Homo sapiens: one gene and its partners. The protein of the gene in region 3 purifies or fractionates together with the protein of the main gene of each other region. This does not show direct contact. Each region holds a gene or a part of one and is shown on either strand. Other genes may lie near its edges.

Region 1 (8,016 bases), on a different chromosome or scaffold from region 3:
AAGCTCACACAGCAGGTTCAGTGGTGCAGTTACAAAGTGGAGCTCAGGCCAGCGGCTTGCAAACACCTTCCAGCCCATCACACTACTGGGGAACACAACGGCTAGTACAGTTGACCCTTGAACAACGCAGGGGTTACGGGTGCCAACCCTCCACACAGGTGAAAACCCATGCATGACTTCTGACTCCCCGACACTTGATTAATAGCCTCCTGCTGGTCGGGAGCACTGCCGATAACATCAACAGTTGATAAACACATATTTTATATATTGTATTATGTACTGTATTCTCACAAAAAAAGTAAACTACAGAAAAAGTTATTAAGAAAATTGTAAGAAAGAGAAAGTGTATTTACTATTCATTAAGTGGAAGTGGATCATCCTAAAGGTCTTCGTCCTCATCATCTTCACGTTGAGTAGGCTGAGGAGGAAGAGGAGGGGTTGGTCTTCCTGTCTCGGGGTGGCAGAGATGGAAGGAAATCCATGTATAAGTGACCCATGCAGTTCAAACCCGTGAGGTTCAAGGGCCAACTGTACAGCAACGTACAGCAAAGCCACGGAAGGGAGCTGGGGCAGCCACTGGCCCTGGAGTGACTCTGGCAACAAGGCTGCCAAGGACCAAGGAGCACCTCAAGCTCTAAGTGGAGACTGACAGGACCCATCCAGCTTTAGAAAGTTTAGCTCCGTGGTGGCAGAGGGCAAACAGAAGACAGAGGGAAGGAAGAGCCAGCAGGGCCCCCAGGGGGAAGGGGCCACGGGACTGGAAGCAAGCAGCACAGAGTGCATGGCAGCTGCAGGGGCATCTCACGCCTCCTGCCCTGGGGTTGGCCTGGGTCTGGCAGAGATGGCCTCACCTCTTTCCAGGACACAGCAGGTGGCCACCAGCCCACAACCACTCTACACAGCCACACGCGGTGTGAAGCCACAGGGAAAGCATCCTAAGTGACCTCTGAAATCACCCTCAGCCCCCTCTAGGACCCTCTGGGTAGGGGTCGAGGACAGGTTCTCTGGGCAACGGTTCCTGCCTCAGTCAGGGGCTGGCTTTCTACTCCCGCAACCAGGAGCCTGACTAACAAGGGGATGGCAGGCGACCACATCAAATGAGGCCCCAGTCTGGACGGCAAGTTGACAACAGTCCCGCAGGCTTGAGATCCACACCGAGTAACAGGGAGTTAACATATGGCCCCAGGAGAGGTGGTCTGCAGGGTCTGAGGAGGATCTGGCCCTTATATGACGTGCCATTTAACAGGAGAGCTAAGGCAGAGGGGGGCAAAGAGGGAAGCGGCTGGGAACGGCAGAAAGGGCCGCTAACAGGGAGGCCCTGAGCAGCCTGGGATCCCCAAGTTCATTTCCAGGCGACTCTGAGTTCCTGGAACTTACCACGGAATACAGACTTCATGGATCTTCTTCCTCCCGCTGCCCCTGCCTGGTGTCCAGGTGCAAGTCTACTCTCAAAGCAGGTTCCCAGGGACTCTACTTCACTCACTCAGAACACTCTGCATGTTTCCCTCTGAGTTCACTCCCAGGAAAGACAAAGTCCTCTGTTTTGTCAAAGTGGAAGCAGGAAAAAGAGGGGGAGCAGGCCAACGGTATTCCAGGCAACAAAAAAAGCAAAGGAAGCGTAAACAGCATTCTAGAAACAAGGTCCAGAGGACAACAGGCCACAGACCCAGGCGTCCACCAGGGTCTTCAGGCAGTAGAAGCGGCAGCCAGCTACTCAACATAAAGACTGCACCAGAGGACTGGGTGCAGAGCACAGACCAGCCCTTCCCCCAGGGCAGCCCCCACAGGTATAGAGTGCACCAAAAACACAAGAGGCCACCCTGCAAAGCTTAACCCAAAATGACAGGGTGGCAGGTTCCATTCGCCAAGATGGCTGCACCTACCTCTCCCATGCCCCAAGCCCTCTCCCCAGTGTGACTGAAACAACCTCCTCCTAAGAGCCATGCTTGACCCTCCTCCCACCCACACCAACTCAAGTGCCAGGCGCTTGTTGGACTACCCAGCACCCCACTCCTCCGTCTGACCAATGTTCCCTGGGCGCCCACTCTGGGCTCAGCAAGGCAGTGGCGTGGTGGTTAACCTGAGAAACAAGTTCCACCTGCCTCCACCCACATGGAGTTGCTAGTTTTGGACACAGACAACAAACAAGTGGACATGTATGGTACCGAGAAGAGAAAACAGGGCGCACGGGCTCTGCAACTGCGGGTCAGGGAAGGCCTGGGGGGCCTCAGTCGAGGTGGAACCATCGTTGGCAGCCCCCAAATGGGTAGAGTGCACCAGCAAACAGGAGCCCAGGGCCCTAGAGTAGGGGGCAGATCCGTGGGGACCACCTCACAGGGCTGTGGGACTCAGCAAGGAGGAGCATTTTATCCCAGGGACCATGAAAAGCCATGGAGGGTTTTAGGTAGGAGCAAAAGATGGTGCTCTTAGGTTTTTAAAAGATCAATCTAGTATGCCTGAGAAAAGTATGAAGCATTCCCGTCTGCCACTGTGGTGCTTATGATTATTCTGGGATACTGATACAGAATAAAGTAGCTAGTACTGATCACGTGCTATAAAGTTACAAATTGCCACTTTTACGGGTTAAAAACAGTGGAATATCGTCAACTTCACAAGATTCAACTTCCATGTACAAGCCGTTGTGGCAGGACCTCATCAGACCTCCTAGCTCTGAAGGGTGACCATTAAACTTCCCATTTCAGAGATGAGGAAAAGGAAGTTCTGAGTCACTGGGCAACCTGCCCAAGACCACACAGAACAAGTCCGGTGGTCAGACAGCTTGCCATGGCTCCTCACGCTCAGCACCTCATACTTGTTGGTCCTAACCCACCCACGTCTCTCTCTGACCAGACTCTGCATCCCTGTAGGAGAGGCCCTGTCTGCTCCATTCACTCCCAGATCCTCAGGCCGAGGACAGAGCGGGACCTCCTTAGAAAATCAAATCAAATTCACTCAACAGGGCACCACCCCAAAGTGTAAAACAGGGTTAACAGGAGCAGCCGGACCACAAGCTGCTGTGCACATTTACGGAGCTCAGCCTAGAGCAGGGCAGAACAGCCACATGGCAGCTCTGGGGGAGGCTGGCTTGGGAGTCTGACTTGTGCCATCCCAGACACAGAGCTACCTGTCAGGCCACGTGTGTTGCCCAGATTCCAGGAGCACAACTCATTCGACCACCACGTCGCTGCAGGGCCACTGGGAGACGCGGCTTCTGCCTCCGACCCTGGAGGACAGCCACCATCTGCATGGGGACTCAGTCTCCCTAAGCGTCTCAAGAAGAACTAATTCTCGATGAAGGAACTGGCCGGTGGTCTGGCCTAGTATCGAGACACCTACACCGTCTTTGGCATAAACACAGGGCCTGTTACTGCCCCTGAGGTCGTCACCAGGGGGAGAGAATGGCCAGTCCTGCCTCCCACAACGCCCAAGACATAAACACGCAACGTGGCACCACGGCCAGGCCGCAGTTCCAATCCCGGCTTCCCACGAGGCGGCTGTGCCTGGCTGGGTGGGCACCTTTTCCTTTGGGCTCTATCCCAGAGATAGGATCAGCTCTTGAGTCTGCCCGCCTGTCGTAACTTCTGCGCACAGAAGTCATGCACTGAGTCCCACTGACTGAGCACCTCGCAGCCGCCGCACCTTCACCTACATTATCTCTTTCCATCTTCACCAGGGCCCTCCAAGGTGAAAGCAAGTCCACACAGGCTCATCCACCACTCCAAAATCAAAAAAAGCTTCAAAAGCGAAAGTTTCTTCCTTCCTGGTTTGACCTGACACGAAGCTATCTGTTGTCTTATCCTAGACAGTCCTAGGTGGGTTTGATCAAACATCACAGTCCAAAATCCCACAGATCCTCAAATTGGAAAAATTCTGGATTCCAAAATATAGCTGGTCCCAAACATTTCAGATAAAGGGTCCCGGGCTTGTTTCCTGGACGAGGGAGGAGGCTCCAGAAGTAACTTCGTGCCCGGGAGAGGCTGGTCCAACTCTTCTGAGATCAGCCCCGACGCTCTCTAGGCCCCGGCAGACCCACCCACCCTGCGCCCAGTTCGCGCCAGGCGGGTCCGCGTCGGGAGTTCAAATCCCGCCCGGGGTCTGACCCAGCCCCGCCGGGGGGCTCGCGGGCGGCGGAGGCGCGGTGGGTCCACCGGGATCCCGATGGGGAGCGCGGGGCGCCTGGCGGCCCCAGCACTCGGCAAAGTTGGCAAAGGCGCGGGAGGGGAGGCCTGCGCGCCGCGGGGCCCGGGCCGGGGCCGGGAACCGGAGCCGGACCCTGGAACGGAGCCGCGCGCCCACCGGACCCCCGACACCAGCCCCGCCCCGCGTCCCTCCCCTCCCCCACCCCGGCCCCCGCCCGCCCCGCGCCGCCGCGCATGCGCACTGCAGCCCGCGATGTGGCAGCCGGGGGAGTTGGGGGGTGGGGGCCGGCCGGGGGCGGCCGCCGATGGAGCCCCGCGCCCCTCCGGCCCCGGACGGGCCAGGCGCCCCGGCCGGCCTCAGAGCTCCAGAGCGGGGCTCTCCGTCCCTGGGGCCCACGACGAGGCCGAGCCACGGCGGCGGGGGGCGCGGACGCGCGGGGGCGGGGGGCCGGCTCCCCCGGCCCGCTCACTCACCTCCGCCATGGCCGTGTGTGCGCGGGAGGCGGTGGCCGCGCCGGGATCCCCGGATGAGGGGCCGCGCACTCATTGGCTGTGGAGCCTGGAGGGCGGGGCAGGGGGCGGAGCCTGGAGGGGGCGGAGAGCGGGCCGGGCGCGTAGTAGGTGCGCGGGCGCGGGCGCGGGCGCGCAGCCGAGCGTGGCCGGCGGCTTCTGGCGAGCTTGCGGTGTCTTTCCGGCCGTCTCTGCTGGACCCTGATCTTGGCCTTGGCCTTGGCGGAGGAGACTGCATTCCATAAAAATACGAATTCCTGATAATCACACCTGCGTGGGGACCACGTGGTCCTGTGTGACCTCTTCATTCCCTCGGCTGCTCGCTGTTAATACCCCGCGTGGCAGACTAGGAAACTGAGGCCCAGGGCGACGGGCCACCCAGAGTGTCAGTGATAGAGCCAGAATTGGTGTCCGGGCTGCGTGGTTCTGGAATTTTCTGCACTTTCGCACCCGTGATGAGCAAACTAGCGCGCGGAGGAACCAATCGGGGAGCTTGCGAACGCGCACCAGTCGGAGAGGTTTTAGAAACGGTGGCCCCGCGCCGGAGAGCCCAAGGCGGGAGGCAGGGAGGTGGGCTTGACCCCAGGGCCATTTGGTTCTGCAGTCCGTCGTTTCGCAGATTGAACATTTCTGGAACACGTGCACGTTCTGATCCTGAGGGTTTGAAGGAGACAGCCCTAACGCCTGTCTTCAGGGCGTTTAGAGTGGAGGATGGGAAGGCAAGGACTCGCCACACCTTAAATTTGAGACGGATAAGTGCCGTGAATCTTCGGGGCGCACGATGCAGAGAGAGGATAGGAAGCAGGGGTGGGGCGTGAAGAGGCAGGGGCCAGGTGGGAGCTGTGGGGCCTGGACCAGAGTGCAGAGAGACTTGAGAAGGTGGACACCACAAGACTCGCTGATGGAGGGAAGCTGGAGAGAGTGAAGGATGGCCTCCAGATGTCTGGCTTGCGCAAATGAGTGGAGGGCGGTTCCTACTGAGACCAGGAAGAAGAGAACTGGAGACCAGGAAGAAGGGAATTGGGGACCAGGAGGAAGGGAATTGGGGACCAGGAAGAAGAGAATGAGTCTCATTCCTGTTTCCCAGTGATCAGCCAATGAATAGTGAGAACTTGACATGCATCAGCCTTGATTCCTGATGCAAAATCATTACTCAGTCCTCTGAGAATTCACCAACCAAGAGATAGAAGAACCACTCTGGAGGGGTCTACCCTCACTCCTTTTTTGGTTTACATCATTGAGATTGAGGGTTCTGGCCCTCGTGTTGAAGAGTCCTCACTGATTTGTGCAAGAGTTGGTTCCTTCCTTTATTATTCATTTGTTATTATTCATTCAGTCATTCAGTGAACTAAACACATATCTTATGCAGTCCTCAACTGGGTGCTGGGTAGCCAGAGGTCCTGTGAAGCAGGGAGAAGCATGAACAGATAAGAGAGTGAGGTGCTGTGCTGTAACAGGTGGAGGGGCCCGAAGACAAGGGCTTGAGTCCACCTGGCAAAACGAGGGAAGACTCTTAGGAGAGGGCTTGGCAAGAATCATCACATAGATGTCAAATGAGGACTTGGGTGAAGAGAAGGGTATTGTGGCTTGGAACGGTGACTCACACCTCTAATCCTAACACTTGGGGAGGCAGAGGCAGGAGGATCACTTGAGGTCAGGAGTTTGAGACCAGCCTGGGCAACAGGGTGAAACCCTGTCTCTACTAAAAATACAAAAATTATCCGGGCGTGGTGGCGAGTGCCCATAATCCCAGCTATTCTGTGGAGGCTAAGGCAAGAGAATCACTTGAACCTGGGAAGGCAGAGGTTGCAGTGAGCTAAGATCACTGCACTCCAGCCTGGGAAACAGAGTGAGACACTGTTTCAAAAAAAAAAAAAAAAAACTTTAAACATTAGAGGGCATGACGATAATGTGCCTGTAGTCCCAGCTACTCTGGAGGCCGAAGTGGGAGGATCTCTTGAGCCCAGGAGGTCGAGGCTGCGGTAAGCAGTGATTGTGCCACTGCACCCCAGCCTGGGCAACAGAGTGAGACCTGTCTCAAAAAAAAAAAAAAAAAAGAGTGAAGGATATTTTAAGGTCTGAAAGTCTGTCTCCGTAGACTGTTAGTCGCAGTGGAGAAATGAAGCCACTTGTTGGGTGGGTGATAAAACTCAGCATCCCTGGTAAAGGGCAGGTGCACACCATGTGCACCTGGATGTGGTGTCCAAAGCAGGACACGGCATCACTGAATCCAGCCAGCAATGCACAACCCATATCTACATATGAGGAAATTTCAGACAAACCCAAATAAGGAATATTCTGTTAAACAAAAGAGGGACTGTATTCTTCAGAAATGTTAATGCCACAATGGGGCGTGGTGGCGGGTGCCTGTAATCCCAGCTGCTCAGGAGGCTGAGGCAGGAGAATCACTTGAACCCGAGAGGCGGAGGTTGCAGTGAGCTGAGATTGCGCCACTACACTCCAGCCTGGGCGACAAGAGCAAAACTCCATCTCAAAACAAAACAGGCCAGGCGCTGTGGCTCACACCTGTAATCCCAGCACTTTGGGAGGCTGAAGCAGGAAGATCACGAGGTCAGGAGTTCAAGACCAGCCTAGCTAGCATGGTGAAACCTGATCTCTACTAAAATAATACAAAAAATTAGCCGGGCGTGGTGGTGCACACCTGTAGTCCCAACTACTCGGGAGGCTGAGGCAAGAGAATCGCTTGAAACCGGGAGGTGGAGGCTGCAGTGAGCCGAGATGGCACCATTGCATTCCAGCCTGGGCGACAGAGCAAGACTCCGTCTCAAAAAAAAAAAAAAAACCACAGCGACAACAACAAAAAAAAGTTAATGCCAGAAAAGATAAACCTGTGTAAATCTTTTTTTTTTTTTTTTTTTTTTTGAGATGGATTCTCGCTCTGTTGCCCAGGCTGGAGTGCAGTGGCACAATCTTGGCTCACTGCAAGCCCCACCTCCCGGGTTCACGCCATTCTCCTGGCTCAGCCTCTGGAGTAGCTGGGACTGCAGGCATGTGCCGCACCTGGCTAATTTTTGTATTTTTAGTAGAGATGGGGTTTCACCATGTTGGCCAGGATGGTCTCGATCTGTTGACCTCGTGATCCACCCACCTCACCCTCCCAAAGTGCTGGGATTACAGGCGTGAGCCATAGCACCCGGCCAGTACGGAGGGTTTCTACTATACTCATTCTTGCAATTATTCCATGAGCATAAAATGAAGTAAAACTCAGAAAATAAAGAGCAGCGAATCTTGAGCAGGGAGCTTAAGGGGAGAGGCTGGAGAGGGTGCCCCTGGCCGTGGCACAGTGGTTTGAGTGGACACCTCACGTTGGAGGAGATACGCCTGCATGTGCCTCCACTCCAGGCTC
Region 2 (7,328 bases), on a different chromosome or scaffold from region 3:
TAGAACTCAAGGTTATGGTTTTTTAAACCAGTATTTTGCATATTTTAAAACTCTTATCAGAAAAGATATCTACCTCACATGTTAAAAATATCTGTATCAAATATAAGAAATCAAGAAGATACTGTAAACTGGCTGCTGTTTCAACAGAAGCTGAAGTATACCTGTTCATTGTCCCTTGTGTGTGTTCCTGCAGAAATCCTATCCATTATTTTTTCACTGCCAGTCCTTAATGAAGTCTCAACAAGGTATTCCTTAACTTTGCTCTCCAAAACCACATCAGGACACCAAAGTAACTGGTCTTCGTTTTCATATACTGATAAAGAAAATCCCATTAACACATTAAAAATCATGAACGCACTCAAAGATGTACACAAACAATTCTTTGTCTTCCTTGATTGGCTATCCAGTGGGACAAGTAAATAACTTTGAAGACACCAGTAATCCGATTATCCGTTAAGTAGGGCCTTTCACACACAAGCGAAAATTTAACTTTATTATAGGCCAAGGATTCCAGGGGCCAAAGCAAGTAGCTTTTTTGGTGGTTGGATATACTGACCAATCTGAAGGCTCTCCATGCCTAGTAAAGTCTAATATAAAACCCCATAGTGGTTATCTTATACTCTTCTAATGAAGGGGCAAAAATAACCTGTGTAAATTCTCTAATAACCTCATTGGACTTTTCTCTTGAAATCCCTAAATTGCTCTATGAAATCTCTAGAGGTTCAAAATTGCAAATAAATAAAACCCAAAATATCTGGTAATAAGGAAATACCTAAGAAGGGTATACTTTTTCTCCCAACAAGATAACTTTTATTTAAAGGAGAAAATAGATTAACCAAACCTCCCTAGGGAGGTTTTTGGGAAGAGGGAGAAACAGTAAGAAAAGTAAACTTTCCACAATCTCTTAAAGACACTGATATATTAATGAACAAAATGTCATTAAAACAAGTTTATGTTTTATTAATGCACTCTGCCACTTTACTCAAAGCTTCTACTTTACACTATAAAGTAATATGAATGGCCCAAGTATTTAGTCCAGTGCTTCAAGTGCAATCTGTTCTTCAAGTGCATAATAAATACTGACTATAGCTAATAAAAATAATTTACCGAGAACACACTACCAGATACCAGGGACCATGATAAGGGCATTATCATCCCAACTGTAGGAGGCAGGCATTGTCATTGCCAGTTAGAAGGAAAGTTAAAAATAAAGTGTGCCTGTGAAGCAGTAAGACTTGACTTTTGAGAGAAGTTCCTAGAACTTTCTTTACTCTTTGGTCACAAGTGAAATAGGTAAAACAATTTGGGTTTATTCCCTCAAAAGACAGAGAAAGTACACCTTCCCTCCAATCTGCAGCACTGACAGAATATCACCTCTACTATGTGTGACCTAAGGACCTACAGTTGCTGAGTATGTACTTGGCTCAAAGGCCAAGTGTGGCATTTGGGTGGTGAGGTGAGAAGGCTGGCACATCTGAACATCATCAGCTATGTTTTGCTTCCCCTGGGATAACTGTCTTTTAACACTTTGAAAGCAGTTTAGGAAAACGGTGTTCCTAGTGGCTGCCATGGCTAACAACCCCAGGGTAACCACTCCTCCCCTCCTTTAAATGGAGGATGACCTGGCATGGAGGAAAGGAAAAAAGAAGGACTCAGGAAGTATTGTGTTGGGTGCTGCTTTTGCCCTTGTGACTTCACAAGGATAAATCAACTTAGGGAAAAGGCCAAACACCCATGGAAATATTCCCAAGTTCAACTAAGAAGGTTTACCTATATTTTTATATCCTACTACCTTATCCCCTCCATATTTTGAAAACCAACTACAGTTGGAATGCACCAAAAACATGAGGAAAAACTGATTACACATAATTAGGAGTATACAAGTGAAAGCAGATCCTTACATTTCACTTCCTGCTCTTTTGGGGCTGGGGAAGGAGAATTTCTTCCAGTCTCTTTTTCCCTCAAGAGTTTTCTTTCCAGAAGATTATATCTTAACATTCTCATTATCTCAGGTGATGAGATCCTACCCACTTCTACTGAAGCAGGATGAAGGCCAAGGTACAGCACCGTGGGAGGCTCCCCATTATTCGAACAGGCACTGAGCACACTGGCTAATAAGCACTATGTGTGCCTTGGGCAGGGTTGGGGGTGGGGGGAAACTCTGAGTCTAGTGATTAACTTTGATACATTTTTCCTAAGTCAGGCCTAAAAATCCTAACTCTGCATGTTTCCCAAATCTATCTATCTATTGCCAAGGCTGGTATAAAGCCAGATATTTAAATACACTTATCAAGTGGTAACCTTATCTACCAAACATTATCAAAATCAAAAGCTTTCCTTACCTTTCTCATTACCATCGTACTCTCCAAGATAAGGGGGAATCTCTGCCTGATATTGTAAACCAATCATTATTTCCTACAGGAAAATTGAGAGGTAAAAATAACTTATTAAAAAAAAAATACTGAAAAAAAGCCCCATATCATTAATCAGTTTCTACAAGTCAAAACAACAAAATTATCATAAATCATTTCAGAAATATTTTTAAAAGCCAATTTAGTCCACTATATTAACTCAGCTTACCTTCCTCAAATCTTCAGGTGAATTACCACTGTCTGTTTCAACATCTTCAACCTCTGATTCCTTATCACCATCACATGCAGTATTTGCTTAAAAGACAAAAATTAAAAAGGTTTTTACTGCCTATTTTTGCAGAACCTGGAAGAATGCCTGTTGTATTTTACAAAATGTTGTTAAATATGTGAGATCAGCATAAGTATACTAAACCACCTGCATGTTTCTCACAATCGACATTGGTCAAAATGAGACACTGAAAATCCTAATAAAGTGTATAGTATCCTGGCCGGTGCAGTGGCTCTCATGGCTGTAATCCTAGCACTTTGGGAGGCTGAGGTGGGTGGATCGCTTGAGGTCAGGAGTTTAAGACCAGCCTGGCCGACAGGCTCTACTAAAAATACAAAAAAATTAGCCGGGCGTGGTGGGGGGTGCCTGTCATCCCAGCTACTCGGGAGGCTGAGGCAGGAGAATCGCCTGAACCTGGGAGGCAAAGGTGGCAGTAAGCCAAGATCACGCCATTGCACTCCAGCCTGGGCAACAGAGTGAGACTCCATCTCAAAAAAAAAAGTGTATAGTATCCTGATAATTATTATGGTATACTATTAAATAGTTTGGGAGGTAAAAGGAAACCACTGTGGTCACCTTAAAAAGAAAGTAAAACACTGGAGTTCTGATTATACTAATCCAGGAGATACACACACAGAGTTGCATATCAGGTCCATCAAAACTGTTTTTGTACACACACGAATGCATGGATATTTGAACTTATTGACCAAACAGTTCTTCTATCATAAAAATACCTAAAAAAAAAAAGTGAGATTGCATCTAAGAAATTATTTTAGTCCAAACATTTTATTTATTTATTTTTAGAAACAGGGTCTCACTCTGTCACCCAGGCTGGAGAGCAGTAGCCTGTTCATGGCTCCCTGTGACCTCAAAGTCCTGAGCTTCAGTGATCCTCCTACCTCAGCCTCCCAGATAGCTGGGACTACATGTGCATGCCACTATGCCCAGCTAAGTTTTTTATTTGAAAATTTTTTTGTAGAGACAGGGTCTTGCTATGTTACCCAGGGTGGTCTAGAACTCCTGGCCTAAAGTGATCCTCTCATCTCAGCCTCCCAAAGTGTTGCAACCACACAACCAACCCCAAAACCTTTTAAATATTACTGATAAACATTAAGAGGTAACACCAAGAACTAATAGGAAAAAGATGAATCATTAAAAGTAAAAATACCTTTTGAGCACTGATAAGTTTTCAAAACCAGGAGAGCAGGAGCCTTTTAATAGAAATTCAAATAAAGGTCTATAAAATTTTGTGGTCAAACTAAGAATGATTACCATAGCAACAGATGAGTCTTGAGAAGGAAAATGGCCTTGTAAAAATAAAGTCAATATTTCCATTTTTATTTTATCTTATTATTATTATTATTATTGAGACAGAATCTCTCTCTGTCACCCAGGCTGCAGTGCAGTAGCATGATCTCCAGCTGGCTGCAACCTTCACCCCCAAGGTTCAAGTGATTCTCGTGCCTCAGCCTCCCAAGTAGCTGGGATTACAAGTGCATGCCACCACACCTGGCTAATTTTTTGTATTTCTAGTAAAGAACAGGTTTCACCATGTTGGCTAGGCTGGTCTCAAACTCCTGGCCTCAAGTGATCTGTCTGCCTCGGCCTCCCAAAGTGCTGGGATTACAGGTGTGAGCCACTGCACCTGGCCAAATATTTCAATTTTTAAATGGCATATTAGTTCACCTCTATCCCAAAAGAAAGGTTATAATCTTGTTTAAATTATAGAAGTATTTTATCTCAACCACATAAAATATTAGAATATTCTGACACAAATTACTGAACACAATAAAATGTACTAAAGCTACAGTATCAATGTTACTATTTATCAGTAATCCACTGGGTTTCTTACATCGTAAAGGCCTAGGGAAGAAATCAGAAGTTTCATGGGAAGTCACAGATGGCGTCAGATCATCCGCAGAAGACTGAGTTTCCTCGTCATCACCTGACAACAGGTCTTTTGCTATTTCCTCCTGGAAGAATAAGAAGGCAGTGCTACAGTTAGAAATGATTACATCTCATTAATTAAGAAAACTATCTTTTTATAACATATCATTAAGAAGCAGTTGGAACCTTATGAGAGAAATATGAAATTCTCCTATGATTTACTTCATGTACATAAATATTTAATATTATATATTATATAATATTCAATAATATACTATTAAATGATAATCAGTGCAACCATATACTAAAACAATTGCCTAATTTGTGGGTATGCAGAGAGCTTATCTAAAGCTGTAGGCTAATTTTTAGTGAATTTACAACAAAAACAGTCTGACTTTTAAGTGGTTAACAATTATATTCATTTTCTGTCAATAATAAAACTGAAAAAATGCCTCCAACCTCCACTCTTCCAATAATTTAAAAGTCCGACTAATGAACAGCACTGACTACTGACATAATTTTAAAAGAAACAAGTTTGAATTAATTTTTATGTAAGTATACAGTCATCCTTGTGCCTAGCACAAAGTAGCCACTCAATAAATACTTGTTGAATGACTATGGTCATTAAGGTCTGTGGTACATTAATATCACATTGACTTAAAAGTGGGAACAATATAACTCACAGGAAGAGGTTCCAAGATGTGGATTCCTCTCCCTGCCTGAGATCTGAAAGGCAAGGAAAGGTTCCCAGGGATCTGTTAGCAGAGGCCATGGCCGTGTGAATTTTCCTCAGCAGGGACTAGGCCTCCCCACAACCAGCCTACGTTAGAGATGGATCACCGCGGTCTTGGCTGCTGCGGCCGCTGTCACTCCCAGAGCCAAGAAAACAGAACTTCTCTCCAACCACTCCACGCCTAAGCCAGCTTGGTTTGAAGGCTTCTGGGGGATTTATTAATCAAGGCTTTTATGTGTTTATAGGATCAAAAGAAGTTAAGGCAAAATCTAAGTTTAGATACAATGTGTCTACACAGGAAAGATGAAAACATTATGGGAGAATATTCAGGCATGCAAAGTACCATGAAGCTGCTATTAATACTACTCTTAACATAGGGTGATCAAAGCCAAACAAAGTTTAAATCAGCCACCAAAATAAGCACAATGGGTCAACAAGAAGTTTACATTTAAGAATTATTAAATAATACTTTAAATGGAAGTAAAAGCAGTCAATGGTAACAGACCCTGAATTTTTCTTTCAAATGCTCACACTTACTTTGTCTAGTGTCATGTCTGGTAGTTCATCTGCCAGTTCACTTGGGGAACTATTTGCACTGGAATTTGCAACTGCTGGAATTGTAGGTTCATAGCCATAGAATGCCAGTAAATCTTCTAGAGGCATGGTTCCTTCCTGTTCAAGCCAGGGCATAAACACGGACTCAGCAGATGTCACAATACTGAACTGCAGGTAAACTGTACTGTCCTTAGGTTCAGAAAGCACATTATCAAAACAGCAGAACAAATCAAAGGCAAGTTTCAGTTTTTCTTTTTGTGCTGTTGTCAGAAAACAGGACCAAACACCTGGAGCTATAATTAATGTATAAACAACAGCCTAACAATTAACACCTTAGTTTTTATTTTCTAGAAGCATTTTACTATTTTAAAAATTCCTCAAATATTTGCTTTAGTGCCTTTTTTTTTGCTTTCAAGTTAACATAAAGATTTGCCCTGAAAACATTTCCAATTAATCAATCAATAACTTGTAATTCACAGCTTCTTTCCTTGCATTTAACAGCTGACCACTTGCTTTATTCTTCATGTTAATTAGAAGACACCTGGTAGAAAACCTTTGCTGAATGTTTACTAACATCAGCAATATTTATGTTCAAAGAACAATTATCCTTTTATATTCTTACTACATCTCCTATCTTTATACCAGTTTTTTTAAAACAACTGTCTGAGGAAGATTATACTGTTATCACCATTTCACAGGTGAGAAAACTGTGGCTTAATTCTGGGTTTGAATCCCAGTTCCCCAAGTTATCTCACTGGCTGCACTGCTTTAATAAAATTACATACCCTGGCTACAGTGCTGCCTATGTTATGAATACCTACGCCATGCCTCACAGTGACACCAAGTCACTGTTCCCCTCTAGGAATCCATGTGAAAATAAGTGTTACCATGCACAACGTAACATTCAGTACATGCAGACTGCATATACAGCCAGGATGCACATACAGCTGTGGTAGGAATAATATGCTACACCATATAGCCTAGGTGTGTAGTAGGCTACATTAACTACTTTTGTCTAAGCATACTCTATGATGTTCACACAGCAATGAAACTGCCTAATGACGCCTTTTTCAGAATGTATTCCCTTGTTCAGTGACACATGACTATGTTTTAACTACTAAAGTGTATAGAACTATTTATCATTCAAGGCCAGTCGCAGTGGCTCACTCCTGTAATCCTAGCATTTTGGGAGGCCGAGGCAGGCAGATCACTTGAGGTCAGGAGTTCGAGACCAGCCTGGCCAACATGGTGAAACCCCGTCTCTACTAAAAATACAAAAAAAGAACTATTTATCATTCGAATAAATAACCTCAAAACAATATACTCACGAACTAGTTAATCTGTTAAACATTTTTAAGATTTCTGTATCCATCAATTAAGAGATTTTTAAAATTTGCTTATGGTTTAGTTTTCCCTTTAAAATAAAATAATCCGTAAAGCAAACAACATGAAAACACTAAAGCAGAGTGTGCAAAACATGCCCACAGTTGATCACAAAGTGACCTGAGAAGAG
Region 3 (7,328 bases):
AAAGCAAATGGGAAATTTATAGCATTAAATGCTTTTTTTAGAAAAGCACAAAAAGCCTTCTGATCAGTGTTGAATTAAATAAATAAATAAATAAATAAGTAAATTTTAAAATCAATGATCTGAGCTTCCGCCACAATAAGCTAGAAAAGGGAGCAAATAAGCCCAAAGCAAAGAAAGGAGAAAATACTAAAGATCAGAAATTAATGAAACTTAAAACAGAAAAACAGCAAAATATCAATAAACCAGAGCAGGTTCTTACAAAAGAGAAATGCAGCCGGGCACGGTGGCTCATGCCTGTAAAGGCGGGTGGATCACCGGAGCTCAGGAGTTCGAGACCAGCTTGGCCAACATGGTGAAACTCCATCTCTACTAAAAATACAAAAAGAAGCTGGGTGTAGTGGCGTGCGCCTGTAATTCCAGCTACTCAGGAGGCTAAGGCAGGAGAATCGCTTGAACTCGGGAGGCAGAGGTTGCAAGGTTGCATTGAGCCAAGATCACACCACTGCCCTCCAGCCTGGGCGACAGAGCGAGACTGTAATCCCAACACTTTGGGAGGCTGAGTCAGGAGTTGAAGACCAGCCTGGCCAACATGGTAAAAACCTATCTCTACTAAAAATTCAAAAATTAGCCGGGCATGGTGATGCACACCTGTATACCCAGGTACTTGGGAGGCTGGTGAGGGAAGCTTGAACCCAAGAGGCAGAGGGTGCAGTGAGCCAAGATCGCACCATTGCACTCCAGCCTGGGTGACAGAGTGAGACTCCGTGTCAAAAAAAAAAGAAAAGAAAAGCTATCAGTATGTTTCACCATATGAACATTCTAAAGGGGAGAAAAAAGGTCCTATCAATTATGCAGAAAAAGCATCTGACAAAATTCAACATCTGTTCCTGACAGAAAACTTCCAACAAGCAGAAATAAAAGAGTCTACCCTCAATCTACTAAAGGGTATTTTTTCAAGCCCACAACAACAACAAAGTTATTTAATGCTTAATGACTGAATGTTTCCCCCCTACAACTGGATCAAGGCAAAAAGTCCCAACCAGTGCAATAAGGCAAAGAAAAAAATATAGAAATTATCAATAAAAGAACAAAACAGATTCCTTAATAATGCAAAAGGCAAATACTTGACTGGGGTAAAAAGAATTATTCTATTCCAGACTCTGTTATATGTCTCATACTTTTAATCCTGGAGAGTCTGCTTTGTATGTTAGGATAGTTATTAGTATAGTTGTAATCTTTGAGTAGTAAGTACTACTAATATTCAAACTATAATAAATGGGTTAAGGCAGCACAAAAGAATAATTTAAAAAAATAGTTCCCTAGAAAATAGATCCTGAGAATAAAAATATATAAACATATATACATGTACTTCCAAATGTAAAAATGAAGCTTGTCATGTAGTAAAAGAAAAAACCCAGCTGCACAGAAAAAACTTTAATTAACTTAAATAAGAGATTTGTTAACAACAATATGCCTTAAAGGCTAGAAAGACAGAAAATACTAGGGAAAAAATGCTTTTAACTAGCAAGAATATAAGGCATCAAACCAAACTAGAAGGTAAAGTGGAAATAATTAAGAATGAGTTTCAAAGAATGACGGACAAAATGTTTTAGAGAAGAACACAATTTGGCAGAATGACTACCTGTATCTAGAGCATATTTTGAAAGTGGAATCAAACAAATTCAATACTTTTTTCACACAGGGTGTTTCTTGCTCTGCCTCCCAGGCTGGAGTGCAGTGGCAAGATCATCACTCACTGCAGCCTCGAACTCCTGGGCTCAAGTGATCCTTTAGCCTCAGCTGCCTAGTAGCTGGAAGCACCACACCCAGCTAATTTTACTTTTTGTAGAGACGCGGTCTCATCATGTTGCCCAGGCTGGTCTCAAACTCCTGGCTTCAAACAACTCTCCTGCCTTGGCCTCCCAAAGTGTTGGGATTACAGGTGTAAGCCACCATGCCTGGCCAATTAATACTTTATATAAAAGTAAGTAAAGAGCTTAATTTTTCTAAATTTAAGACAAACATGCAGATTGAAAGGCAAGCCAAAATTAAATATTGCCAAGTCATTTTAATGATCAGAATTAGAGAATCAAGTGCAATTACTAGAGTTAAAGAAGTCAAATACTTTTCAATTTGAAATCTTATCTGAGGGAGAACACTATCTGATTACTTTTAGGAAGCAACTCAGAGGTCATACTGACCTTTTTTTTTTTTTTCTTAAGTATTTCTGAAATTTAAAGAAATAAGAATAGACTGGCTAAATTTTCAGGTCATTTGCAATTTTAAATTTTCTCATCATAAACTGCTTCAAGCTGTTTGATCACTTCCACTGATTACTACACAAGAAATAATTTGCACAATTTCCCTTACTTTTATATCATTTACATTTAAATACAGCCAAAAAATACCCATGAAAATCTAAGAAATGTTCATTTCTAAAACTAACAAACAAAATCAAACTACAAGTATTAAAGTGCCCACAAAAACATTTTGGAATACCATGGAGTTGAGGCAGGGAGTAACAACTCTCAAACTACTTTTATTTAATCTTACTCATATTTAAGAATAAGTTATCTTCAACAGACCTAATCTAATTGTGGAATCATTTCAAGGTATTTTGAATAATCATATCATTTATAGATATCAGAGCAGAACAAATTTTGGATTAAGTAAAGAACTATAATTATACTCTTAGGACATCTGCTGATGACAGAGGTTTCTCTGACACCAGTGACAAAGTAATATTTTCTGGGACCATTACAACATGCCTAGACAAATTAAATTTTTTAGCTTTATAACAAGAAAGCTCATAGAGTACAATTTTTTGAAAAATTGGTTAAATAGGTTATGTCACAGAGGAAACCTAATTTGCCTCTCTGCCACGGAAATTTTTAAATAAGCCAATAATTTAACATTATGAGATCTGAAGTAATTACTTTTCTATACGGCAAGCTCCAGCCCAGCCACCAGTACCTCCTTTACCATATCCAATGAATATTTTAACATGACTTTCCTGTAATGGTCTTCAGCTTTAAATGGATAGACTCTGACATCGATAATTCCTTAAAGACGTGCTTATTCCACAAGCTGTTCTTGCTTTTTCTGAGGACATATATATGTATACAAGCATTTTTAGATATTAATCATTTTTAAGCTTTTTTACTTAAAATCAAAAGTTTCCTTACAGTATGTTTCAAAGATAAAATCACATTACATTATTGGGGAAACTACTAGTTAAGACTCTAAAACGCACACAAGGCTGAGTGCAGTGGCTCATGCCTGTAATCCCAGCACTTTGGGAGGCCAAGGCGGGCAGATCACCTAAGGCCAGGAATTTGAGACCAGCCTGGCCAACATGCTGAGACCCCATCTGTACTAAAAAATACAAAAAAAAAAACAGCCAGGCGTGGTGGCGCACGCCTCTAGTCACAGCTACTCAGGAGGCTGAGGCATAAGAATCACTTGAACCCAGGAGGCAGAGGTTGCAGTGAGCTGAGACAGTGCCACTGCACTCCAGCCTGGGCGACCGAGCAAGACTCTGTCTCCTAAATAAATAAATAAAATGCATACAAAATAGTTGCAGTAGTACCTGCAGATAGATACAGGGATTAAAGGAAAAGGAATCCTTAGGAAAATTCTTTATCCTATCTAGAGTACCTCTTAAGCTCCCTCTGCTGGTTACCATTTAAATAAAGTAGGAAAAAATGTTGACCTTTTTTCTTTGAGGAGGTGATGGGAGATGCAGGATGAAGTCTGAAATTGATAATGTTACGGCTAAAATTGAAAGGGAGATTCTCTTAAAAGGGGGCTAAATCTAACTGATGACTATCTTCTGTAAGAAGGCTTTAAAAGGATTTCTAAACAGATTGGGGGAAGAGCGACTGAAAATAAGGGGAGTGATTACCAAGTTTGAATATGTTAATCATTAAATTGATATGCCAAAATGCAAAAGCATTTAATATAAATCAACTATAAACGATTATGACTTAACACTAGAAAAATTAAGAATTTAAATATATTTCACAAACTTCACCAGAACAAAAAACTTTTATCACACTATTTAATCTACTTAGTTTCAATATTAAGGTTTATTTTTTCTTCCAGATTGAAAGTAACAATTTAAATAATTATCAGGATATAGAAACAAATATCCATTCAGATAAAACATTACTGCTTAAAAGTGGCTAAGAAATATTTTGCATGTAATAAATATATTTCATGTTTAGGTTAACAGGCACCATCTTGAGAGCAGTTTGTTTTTTTTTTTTAGCTAATAAATAAATTACATTCAAGAAAACAAGGTGTTTATATCTGAGTATATCATTAAATGTTTTTCTTCATATAGCACCCAAACTTCAAACTGTCTAGAAAGTATCTCCTAAAATATAACTCATACCTTAAGTAATAAAAATAAAGGCCAAGAAAAAAAATCAATTTAAGACAAAATTTACAGTTTATATTCTTAATTCCCCATTCAATAAAATATCGATTGCCAATTTAATAAAAGTAAATGAACTGTATATATGCAATCTGTTAGCACTGAAAATCTGAAATATATATTTTTAAAAATCACTCTTTCTGACAGTATTTAAAATATTGCATCTCTGGTGGCAAACCTGAAAACAATCAAGCATCTTATTACCCTAGTTTTCATACCTACCCCATACCCCATCACTTTTTATCCTTTAACATCCATCCAGCATTTTTGTTGGTTTTTTTTTGTTGTTGGCAAATACACTTACTTATATCCCAAACACAAAACACTGACAATACTCCTTGGTAAACAAGGAAATCCCAGAACAGTCCAAGCCTACACAGCTTTGCTCCCGAAGTGTGGCACAGGCTAAACGACAGGCGAGAAAGAAACAATCGATGGCCCTTATTGATGCAGTCAGAATGCTCCTGAGAGTCCATAACTGTTTGAGAATTTGCTGATGTTATCCTGACAGAAGTTTCAGCAGATTTTGCAAACAAGTATCAGAGAATAAGTCTTTGATTGATAATTTTTCTATTTATTTCTGCCAAGGCGACTGAAAACACGAAAGCCTTTTCATCAGACAGGTTAGCATAGATGTCAATTTCCTTTTCCTGTTTCTCTGTTAAAAGAAAAAGGGAAAGTTTAATATAAAGGCAGTAGATGCAGTAAATTTAAATTTTTTAAAGCTTTCAAGTATTTCTTTAAATGACAGTATTATATATAATACTACAATATACATTAAATGTTACTATGCTACTGAACTAAAAAGTTTTTTAAATTATACAAAGGAGTTACTGAAATGAAGATTAAATGAAGACAATATTTATTTCTATACACAGGCACTCTAACAGCTACATAATTTTTCTAAGAATCTCATACATTTCTATCTCCTCACTGTCTCAATCAAAATGAATTTTCTCTGCTAGACGAAATTCACTCTGAGAGATGGTCCCCTTCTGAACATCAATGGTGACTTTATGAATACATTAACATATTCATCTTCATCTTCTTATACAGGAAATGACATTTATTTTTATTTTTCCCCTCTCGATTACAAATGTAATCCAAGTTCACAGAAAATTTGAAAAAGAAAATAAAAATCACTCGTAATCTCATGAGTCAGCAAAAATCACAATTAACATCTTGGTGTATATTCTTCCAAGTTACTTTTTCAGGATCCCCTGATTCTATTTTTGTTTATTTTGTTTTGACAGTCTAATCAAAGTTAAATGCATATAATTTACAATCAAATCATTTTTATAAAACTTGTTAAAAAAAAAAAACAGAAGTCCTTTGCCCCATACACATTTTCCACTCTCCAAATGCAACTACTTTTTTTGTGACTTTTTTTTTCAGTTGTTCCTTTTTGCTTTTACAAAAACAAATCTCTAAGTAACATTTGTACAAGATGCTACTTCAGGGTTTTAGGCATTACTGATTCACTTTCCACCAGGGAAAATAAGGGTTACACTGTTTTGCATCTCTTGCCCCAATAAACACTCTGCCCATCCCTCATCTTCTCACTATAATTAAATCACAACTTTAGTAACATCAGTTTTCAGTGATTACATTATTATGCCTATGGTAAGTGATTTTTCACTTTTCCTTTACATTGTTTTCCCTGAAGTGATTCTCTTTTTACTTGCTTAGTTTTCATTTCTAACTCAACCCAATGTCTTTCCTAGTTGTATAAATTGTTTTTCAGGATGTTTACACGTATCAGGTATTTTATCATTTTTATCTTCTTGAAGAAATCGCTCCAAGTCTTCCAACCTGCTCCAGTATGAAATGATTGCTCTCTAGGCCTACTGCAAAATTATCATCTTGTGCTCTTTCATCAGCATCATGCTGGAGACTCTCATCTCTAGAGTTGGGTGGACCCACCTTTGTCTTGAATCCAAAGATCCTTTCTTGGTTTATTTCTTCATTTTGGTAGCAGGTAACTTGTAGGGGCTTCCTGAGAAAGGCAGTATTGGTAGCAAATTTTTTGAGACCCTGAATGTCAGAAAATATCTTTAGTCTACCTTCACATTAATTCATAGTTTGATTGAGTATAGACTTGTAGGTTTCCGCTTAGAACTGTGAAGGCAGTAAACTGTCTTCTGACTACTGGTGCCATTGTTGAGAAAACCAATACCTTTTTTATAGTTATTTTTAAAATCAATGATAAATTTACATATAGTGAATACACAGATCTTTTATGTGTTCAACTGGAGGAGTTCTGACAAACATATACAAACATGTAACCCATGTCACAATCAACATATAACAAATTTCCTCCAGAAATTCCTCATGCTTCTTTCCAGCCAATCCCTCTCTACACCTACAAGCAACCACTGTTCTGATTTCTATTACCACAGAATCATTCTGTCTGTTCCTAAACTTCATATAAATGGCATCATATATAGTATGTACTCTTTTGTGCCTAGCTTATTTTGCTCAACATGTTTTTGAAATTCATTGATGCTAGTCATATATCAGTAGTTTGTTCTTTGCTGGGCAATATTGCATTGTATTAGTTCCAATATCATTTTGCTTTTCTTTTTTCTGAAAACCTGAAAAATTTTATTTAACCAAAGATATGAGATATGATGACGAACTCTGGTATAATTTCTCTTTTTAACCATCATTTCTCTTTTTAGACTGGGAATTTGTAGGCCCTTTTAACAAAGAAACTCAATGTCCTTCAGGTTGGAAAAATTTTCTTGAATAAATAATTGTCATTGTTAAAGTCGTTGATGACTTCCTTCTCCTCCATCTTCCATGTTCCTTATCTGAAACTTTAATTATTTACAGATGTCAGACCTCATACTGGTCCTCTAAATTTCTTAAGGTTTCCATTCTGTTTTTT
Region 4 (7,328 bases), on a different chromosome or scaffold from region 3:
AGGGTTTCCAGGAGCCGGTGGCGGGGTCCTGTGCCTCCCCTCTGCTCCCACAGTGCCGGGCTACCTCCACCCTCACCTGCAGCTCCTGCTTCCTGTCCGTGTCTCCTCCCAGCCCTGAACTCCCGACATTGGGGCTGCGTCTGCCCGACCTCTGTGTCCACACTGAAGCCTGGGCGGGCTCAGCATTCACTCCTTAGTTGTTCTTCATTCCACTACGATTTTTCTTTCCTTTTTCTTTTTTTGAGACAGGGTCTCACTATGTTGCCCAGGCTGGAGTGCAGTGACAATCACAGCTCACTGCAGCCTCCACCTCCTTGGACTCAAGTGATCCTTCCACCTCAGCCTCCTGAGTAGCTGGGACTACAGTCGCGTGCCACCACACCCGGCTACTTTTTTTGTAGAGATGGGGTCTCACCACGTTGCCCAGGCGGGTCTCAAACTCCTGGGCTCAAGCAATCTGCCCACCTAAGCTTCCAAACTGCTGAGATTACAGGCGTGAGCCACCGCACCAGATCTGCTGCTATTCCTTGGGCACCCACAATGTGTGCTCTCTGTTGTATCCAGAGAAGGATGTGTGTGTGTGTCACAGGGAATTGAGGCCCCCCTACTGCCCTCAGTCTCCTGCCTTGGGACTGTTAGTGAGAGGAGTGAACCCTCCCTCATGGAAGCTGCAGTGTTTTGGGGTCTCCTTGTGAGAACAGCTCAGTCTTGTCCTGAACTAACCCATTAGAGTGTGTGAGGGAGCATTTCACTACCTTCACTTACACAGGGACTCCAGCGGGCCACTCATTCTGTGACTCGTTTTCACCTGGCTTCATTTCAAAAGAAACCTGTCTCACCACTGTGAGCAGAAAACCCCAGCACCATCTGTTAAAGCTAGAGAGTAAGTGTAAAAATAAGCTCCAAGAAAATGGGGCAATGGACTTGTGTTCTAGCAGGTCCTGAGGCTGGCTTCCCATGCAGAGGTTGCCTGCGGAAGTCTGGGGGCTGAAGGCCTGTCTCTTCCTCTTTCCGCAGGGATGTTGGGGCAAATTAGCATCAAACTGTGTCATCCTTCTTGCCACTGTTTAAAGCTTCATGGTCCTTCAGGGGGCATTTTACCTGTTACCATCGCTGCGAGACCTGCCCCTGACATTAGACCTACAAGTGTGCTGCACACCCCCACCAACAGTCCCACCAGTGGACACCCAGGACCTGGCCTCATGACCCTCATCAGTCTGACCTCTGACACACCATGTGTTTCACCCTTTAGCTCCTGTCTCCCGCAATAGGATGTGAGCTCCCTGAGGGCAGGGATTTTTGTCTTACTCATTCCTGTATCCCCAGGGCCTAGAACAGAGTCTAGCACATGGCAAGGGTTCAGTATTTGTTGAGTGAAGGTAGGCTGGGTCCAGGAACCACCAGTTCACCTCATAAGCCTCCTCCACTTGGGAAGCAGCACGTAGGTGACATGGGCTGTCTCTGGAGTTGAATGGCCCAGGTTTGAGCCCAGGAGCCCCTGCTTAGTAGCTGTGTGGCCTGGACTGATTACCTAAGCTCTCTGTGCCACAGATCACGAGAGCACGCAGCTCAGAGCAGTTGTGAGGATGCAGGGGAAGCACCAGGGGCAGTGCCTGGCACAGACAAGTGTATAATAAATGTTAGCTTTGAACAGTCAGTAGAAGGAAGTCAAAATGACGACACACATCCCCTTCTCTGAAGGAGGATGAAATTCTGGGCATGGTGCCACTTATGCCAATTAAACACATACCCAAGAACATCATAGAGTTTTTAAGGACACAGATGCATCTAAACTAACACATTTAGGAGTATTCAGAAGTAGTGAACTAGGTGTATAGTTAAAGTTAAAAACATAACATTGAGTGAAAGAAGGCAAGAAACAGCATGAGGTTTAGAGCATAGTGCCATTTATACAAATTAACACACAGTACCACCATATATAGTTTAAGGACACAGACATGTCTATAGAAAATTGATTTAGAAGCCGGAGTCAGAAGCAGTGAACTCGGTCCACATGTAGGGATAGGGTTAAAGCTGAAGAGAGCCAGAGACAGATGAGACGCAGAGTGGAACATCACTTACGCAAATCACACACAGCACCACGGCCAGCATGCGATTTTGAGGGTACAAATACATCTAAGTGAACACATCAGAACACATGTTAAGTGTGCTTGAGCAGCTGTCCATGGTTGAGAGAAGGAAGTTGGGAGACACGAAGGGAGTAAAATAAAACGAGAAAGGCTTCATGTGAGGGAAGGACTGGGAAGGACTTCACGGCACACTAAGGACAGGGAAACATGAGGGACTCAACGCCATTTACTGGAGGGTTCACCCTCTTCCCACTCTATATGCCTTCCCAGATAATCTCATCCTCTCCTGGGGCTTCAGCTGATGGCTCCGGAGATATTCCCGGGGTCTGAGTCTCCCTTTAGACTTCACTCCTGCACTTCAGACGTAGATGGCCAGCTGCCTCCCAGATGACTTGGGCAACAAGTCCAAGACGGAGTCTTGCTTTGTCACCCAGGCTGGAATGCAGTGGCGAGAGCTCGGCTCACTGCAACCTCCACCTCCCGGGTTCAAGCAATTTTCCTGCCTCAGCAGGGATTACAGGTGCCCACCACTGCTTCGGCTAATTTTTGTTATTTTCAGTAGAGACAGAGTTTCACTATGTTGGCCAGGCTGGTCTCGAACTGCTGACCTCGAGATCCATCTGCCTTGGCCTCCCAAAGTGCTGGGATTAAGGCGTGAACCACCGTGCCCGGCCTGGGCAACTGATATTCATGTCTGAAGTGCATGCCTAGCACGCCCGCTAGGATCAGCTGCCCACTGTCCTTGGTGCTGAACTCATACCCACAGCGCTTCCCTTTTGTGCTCCGCTGTCCCTGGTGCTGAACCCACATCCCTAGCACTTCCCTTTTGTGTCCCGCTGCCTGCTGTTCTTGGTGCTGAACACACACCTTAGTGCCTCCCTTTTGTGCCCAGCTGCCTGCTGTCCCTAGTGCTGAACCCATACCCCTAGTGCTCCCTCTGTGTCCAGCTGCTCAATGCCCTTAGTGTTCAATCTCACCCCAGAACTTCCTCATATGTTCCGCTGTCCACCGGCTTTGGTGCTGAATGTTTAAACCAGCACTGGTAAGACCTGGTGGTTTACACAGAGGTGAAGGCACTGATCTGGCAGTGTGGACACTGCATAGGTGGTGCTACCAGTGCTGAGGCAGGGCCTGGGCCTATCCTGCTCAGATTGCCTGCATGTTTGTGATGAATGAGTCATAGTTTCCCACACACAATGAGCTTTTTTTTTTTTTTTTTTTTGAGACGGAGTCTCGCTCTGTCGCCCAGGCTGGAGTGCAGTGGTGCAATCTTGGCTCACTGCAAGCTCCCACTCCCAGGTTCACGCCATTCTCCTGCCTCAGCCTCCCAAGTAGCTGGGACTACAGGCGCCCGCCACCATGCCTGGCTAATTTTTTGTATTTTTAGTAGAGACGGGGTTTCACTGTGTTAGTCAGGATGGTCTCGATCTCCTGACCTCGTGATCCGCCCGCCTCTGCCTCCCAAAGTGCTGGGATTACAGGCGTGAGCCACCGCGCCCGGCCACAATGAGCATTTTCTCTGAGCCAGCCCCTGTGCTAAGTGCTGTGTGCACCTGACTTCCCTGAACTCTTTGCAGTCCCATAAGGTAGTAGCTAGTAGGAGACCATCTCATGGAGCAGGACACTGAGGCTCGCAGACGTTAACACCCCACAGTGGTGGTGCCAGAGTCTGAGCCCAGGCAGTGTGGCTCCGGAACACCTGCCTCGCCTGCTGTGTGGACACTGCAGCACATGCCTGTGCGGCTCAGAGGACTTGGGCTCTGCTGGATGCCACCTCCCCTTCCCTCCTGCTCCCAGTTGGGCTCTGGGCTTCTGTCCACCTGCAGGGGTTCTGCTGACCACCTGCAGGGGTTCTGCTGACCCCTAGACTCACTTCTGTTTTTGCTTCATGATGTCCTCAGTGTTGGGAAGGCAATTTGTCCATGGCAGAAACCCGTAGAGCCACTTCAGCATGCAGTAGCCCAGGCTCTGGAGGTCGCTGCGGCGGGAGGGCCCTGGGGAAGGAGGAGTAAAGGTGGCAGCTCAAGTCTGGACGCTCCACTCACTGGTGGGTCCACCCCCCTTCCTTCCCCTCTCTCTCACTGACTCAACCACACACTCATACACCCAGCCTTCCAGCCATATGGGCTGTCTCCTCCGCTCATTCACTTTCATGAGTAGGCAGAAGCTGACTCATTCTCTCTCTCACTCAACCATTCTCTCAGCCCCTTTTACCAGGTCACCCTCATCCACTCCTCTTTCATTCATGCACTCATTCAATCAAGCCTCAGCACCCGTGTGCCAGGCCCAGCTCACTTCTGAAAACCCAGACCAGGATCTCGTCGGGTCCCAGCCCGTGACAGCCTAGTGGGGAGACAGCTATAGCGTGCGACTACCTGAGTGACAAAGGACACAGAACACACGGGAGCCCAGAAGGATGGGTACCAAACCCAGCCTCAGTGGGGGAGGGCGGGGGAGACTCTGACAGTTTATTTTTCTTATGCTTCCTGAGCATAAGACAACGCTTAATTTAGACAACGCTTTGTGTAAGCACTCGACAAGCACTACTTGTCCGTGCTGGCCTTCCACCACCCGATGCTGGAGGCAGGGGTGCCATCCCTGTACTGGGGGAGCTCAGTCTGATGGGAGGATGTGGCAGGCATGTGGACGGCCATGATATAAAGGGATGTGAGAAAGAGGGGCTCAAGAAATCTGCCCTGGGCCCTCTTCCTAGTCTGTACACTTTCCCTGGATGATCCCATCCTCTCCCAGGGCTTCGGCTGATAACTTCTGAGATACTGCAGAGCCTCTGCCCAGATCTCCCTCCCACACTCCAGATGTGGTGGCCAACCACCTCCTCAACAGCCCCTCCTGGATGACTCCTAGGCAACTCCCATCTTCCAAGTCTACAACAGATCCTGAACCCCAACCTCTGGAACTCAGGCTCCCCAGTGCCCAGCCTCCCACTATGCTTAGTGCTGAACCGCTACCCCACCCACCTCCCTTGCGGTCGGGACGCTGTCTGTGGTTCCAATCCCTGTCCTGGCGCCCTTAGTGCCTCTCCTGTCTGGCCACCTGCTGTCTCTGGCTGTGAACTCCTAGAGCTGCCCTTGTATAAGAAGCATCTCTCTGCGGTCCCAAACCCATCCCTGGCCTCGTACCGCATCCCTTGTGCAGGTCCATGCTAATGAACTCAAGGTCCCCCTCGTGAGGGCTCCTGCTGCCTTCCACGTAGGCCACGTGTTTGCCACTTGGGCAATAGCGGAAGGCGAAGCCATAGCCTGCCAAAGTCACCTGTGGACACAGGGAAAAGCCATACAGATTGGAGGTTAGGAGCGTAGAAGTCAGAGATTTCCATCGTGGGTGCAAGTGACAACAAACATTCTACCAAAGATGGCATTTTTCACTTACAAAACTAAGGCATGCTCATAGTAAAAATGATGTGAAGTAAAAAGAACCCAAACCAGCCATCCATATTTCCTCCCAGCCCCTAAAACCCATCGCCCAGAAATAACCACTAGTAACAGTTTCGTATGCATCATTCCAAAATTTTTTTTTTTTTTTAAATAACCAGGTAAACATATGTGGATGGGGAGGGGGCTCTTGTTTTCCACAGAGGCCTCACACCAGACCTCCTGTTGGGCACCGGCACTTTACACTTTAATAGTGGTTCTGGGCATTAACTCTGGGGCCAGATGGCCTGGGTTCAAATGCCAACTCAGCCCGCTGGTGGCGGTACAACCTTGGGCAAGCTATACCAGTTCTCTCTGCTATGATTTCTCCATTTGTAAAATGATGATAATAATAGTCCCCACCTCAAAGGGTTCTTATAAGGCTTAACTGAGTTTAAAACAAAAGTTAAATGCTTTCTGCCTGATACATAAAGTTAACCAAATCTTCTTTCAAAAATATCTACTTATTTATTTTGAGATGGGGTTTCACTCTGTCACCCAGGCTGGAGTGCAGTGGCGCGATCACGGCTCACTGCAGCCTCCTAGGCTCCAGTGATCCTCCCACCTCAGCCTCCCGAGTAGCTGGGACTACAGGCATGCACCACCATGCCCAGCCGATTTTTTGTAAAGATGGGGTTTTGCCCTGTTGCCCAGGCTGGTCTTGAACCCCTGGGTTCAAGTGATCCTCCTGCCTTGGCCACTGTGCCCAGTCCATGTCTTCTTTTCAATGGCTGCATCTTATTCCACCATATGGATAGTGGACAACTGTTGGTTTTGTCTATGTAAGACCTATATACACTTCCCCGGCTCCCTGTTTTTCTGTTTACAGTTTGTGGTGTTCATTAAAAAAATAATTTTTTTTTTTTAAGTTTTGAGACAGGGTCTCACTGGGTCACGCAGGTTGGAGTGCAGTGGTATGATCATGGCTCACTGCAGTCTCCATCTCCTGGGCTCAGGTGATCCTTCTACCTCAGCCTCCTGAGTAGCTGGAACCACATGTGTATGCCACTACACCTGGATAGGTTATTATTTTTTATTTTGTACAGATGAGGTTCCCTATGTTTCCCAGGCTGGTCTCGAACTCCTGGGCTCAAGCGATCCGATCCTTCCACTTTGGCCTCCTAAACTGCTGGAATTACAGGTGTGAGCCACTGGGCCTGGCCATGATGGTCATTTTTATGTGGCAACTTGACTGGGCCATGGGGTGCCCAGACATTTGGCCAAACCCTATTCTGGGAGTGTCTATGAGGGTGTTCTGGATGAGATGAACATTGGGGTTTGTAGACTGAGCAAGGCAGATTATTCTCCTTAATGTGGGTGGGTCTCATTCAATCAACTCAAGATGTGAATAGAATAAAAAGCTAAGTAACCAGAAGCTCCTCCTCCCTGACTGCTTGAGCTAGAACATTGGTCTTTTCCTGCCTTTGGACTTGAACTGAAACAACCCCTCTTCTTGGGTCTCAGGCCTGCTGGCCTTTGGATTGGAACTTACATCATTGGCTCTCCTAGGTCTCCAGATTGCAAACTGAAGAATCTCAGGACTGCTTAGCTTCCATTATCAATAAGCCAATTCCTTATAATAAATCTCTACACACACACACACACGCACACACACACACACCCTGCCAGTTCTGTTTCTCTGAAGATTCCTAATGCTTAGTTCCAGGATTTTCATCTGGGATTGCTTTTCCCCAGTTCTCAGTCCACGCAGTTCAGGTCTGTTTCTGCCAGGGCTGCTAAGCTTTGGGGATTTAAGCCTAATTTGCTGGTGGCAATTTTGTCACCATGAGGAATAAGTCTGCCTGAC

Evidence for each region.
Region 1: the proteins of C16orf87 (region 3) and MIER2 purify together in Homo sapiens (affinity purification with mass spectrometry; 2 studies listed by BioGRID and IntAct, with this or other methods). This does not show direct contact.
Region 2: the proteins of C16orf87 (region 3) and MIER3 purify together in Homo sapiens (co-immunoprecipitation; 3 studies listed by BioGRID and IntAct, with this or other methods). This does not show direct contact.
Region 4: the proteins of C16orf87 (region 3) and VRK3 purify together in Homo sapiens (affinity purification with mass spectrometry; one large-scale study listed by BioGRID and IntAct). This does not show direct contact.

What each region holds. Positions count from the first base shown.
Region 1 is NC_000019.10:340,161-348,176, forward strand, and holds the start of MIER2 (mesoderm induction early response protein 2), read right to left. Parts: upstream 4,637-8,016; 5' UTR 4,623-4,636; coding exon 4,614-4,622; intron 4,315-4,613; exon of another isoform or gene 3,665-4,314; coding exon of another isoform or gene 3,650-3,664; exon of another isoform or gene 354-3,649; intron 1-353. UniProt on the Homo sapiens protein: Transcriptional repressor.
Region 2 is NC_000005.10:56,933,086-56,940,413, forward strand, and holds part of MIER3 (mesoderm induction early response protein 3), read right to left. Parts: intron 5,933-7,328; coding exon 5,798-5,932; intron 4,614-5,797; coding exon 4,493-4,613; intron 2,667-4,492; coding exon 2,581-2,666; intron 2,416-2,580; coding exon 2,343-2,415; intron 314-2,342; coding exon 162-313; intron 1-161.
Region 3 is NC_000016.10:46,797,975-46,805,302, forward strand, and holds part of C16orf87 (UPF0547 protein C16orf87), read right to left. Parts: intron 6,473-7,328; coding exon of another isoform or gene 6,402-6,472; exon of another isoform or gene 6,362-6,401; intron 5,097-6,361; coding exon 4,978-5,096; 3' UTR 1-4,977.
Region 4 is NC_000019.10:49,984,409-49,991,736, forward strand, and holds part of VRK3 (serine/threonine-protein kinase VRK3), read right to left. Parts: intron 5,364-7,328; coding exon 5,231-5,363; intron 4,085-5,230; coding exon 3,964-4,084; intron 2,526-3,963; coding exon of another isoform or gene 2,429-2,525; exon of another isoform or gene 1,891-2,428; intron 1-1,890. UniProt on the Homo sapiens protein: Plays a role in the regulation of the cell cycle by phosphorylating the nuclear envelope protein barrier-to-autointegration factor/BAF that is required for disassembly and reassembly, respectively, of the nuclear envelope during mitosis.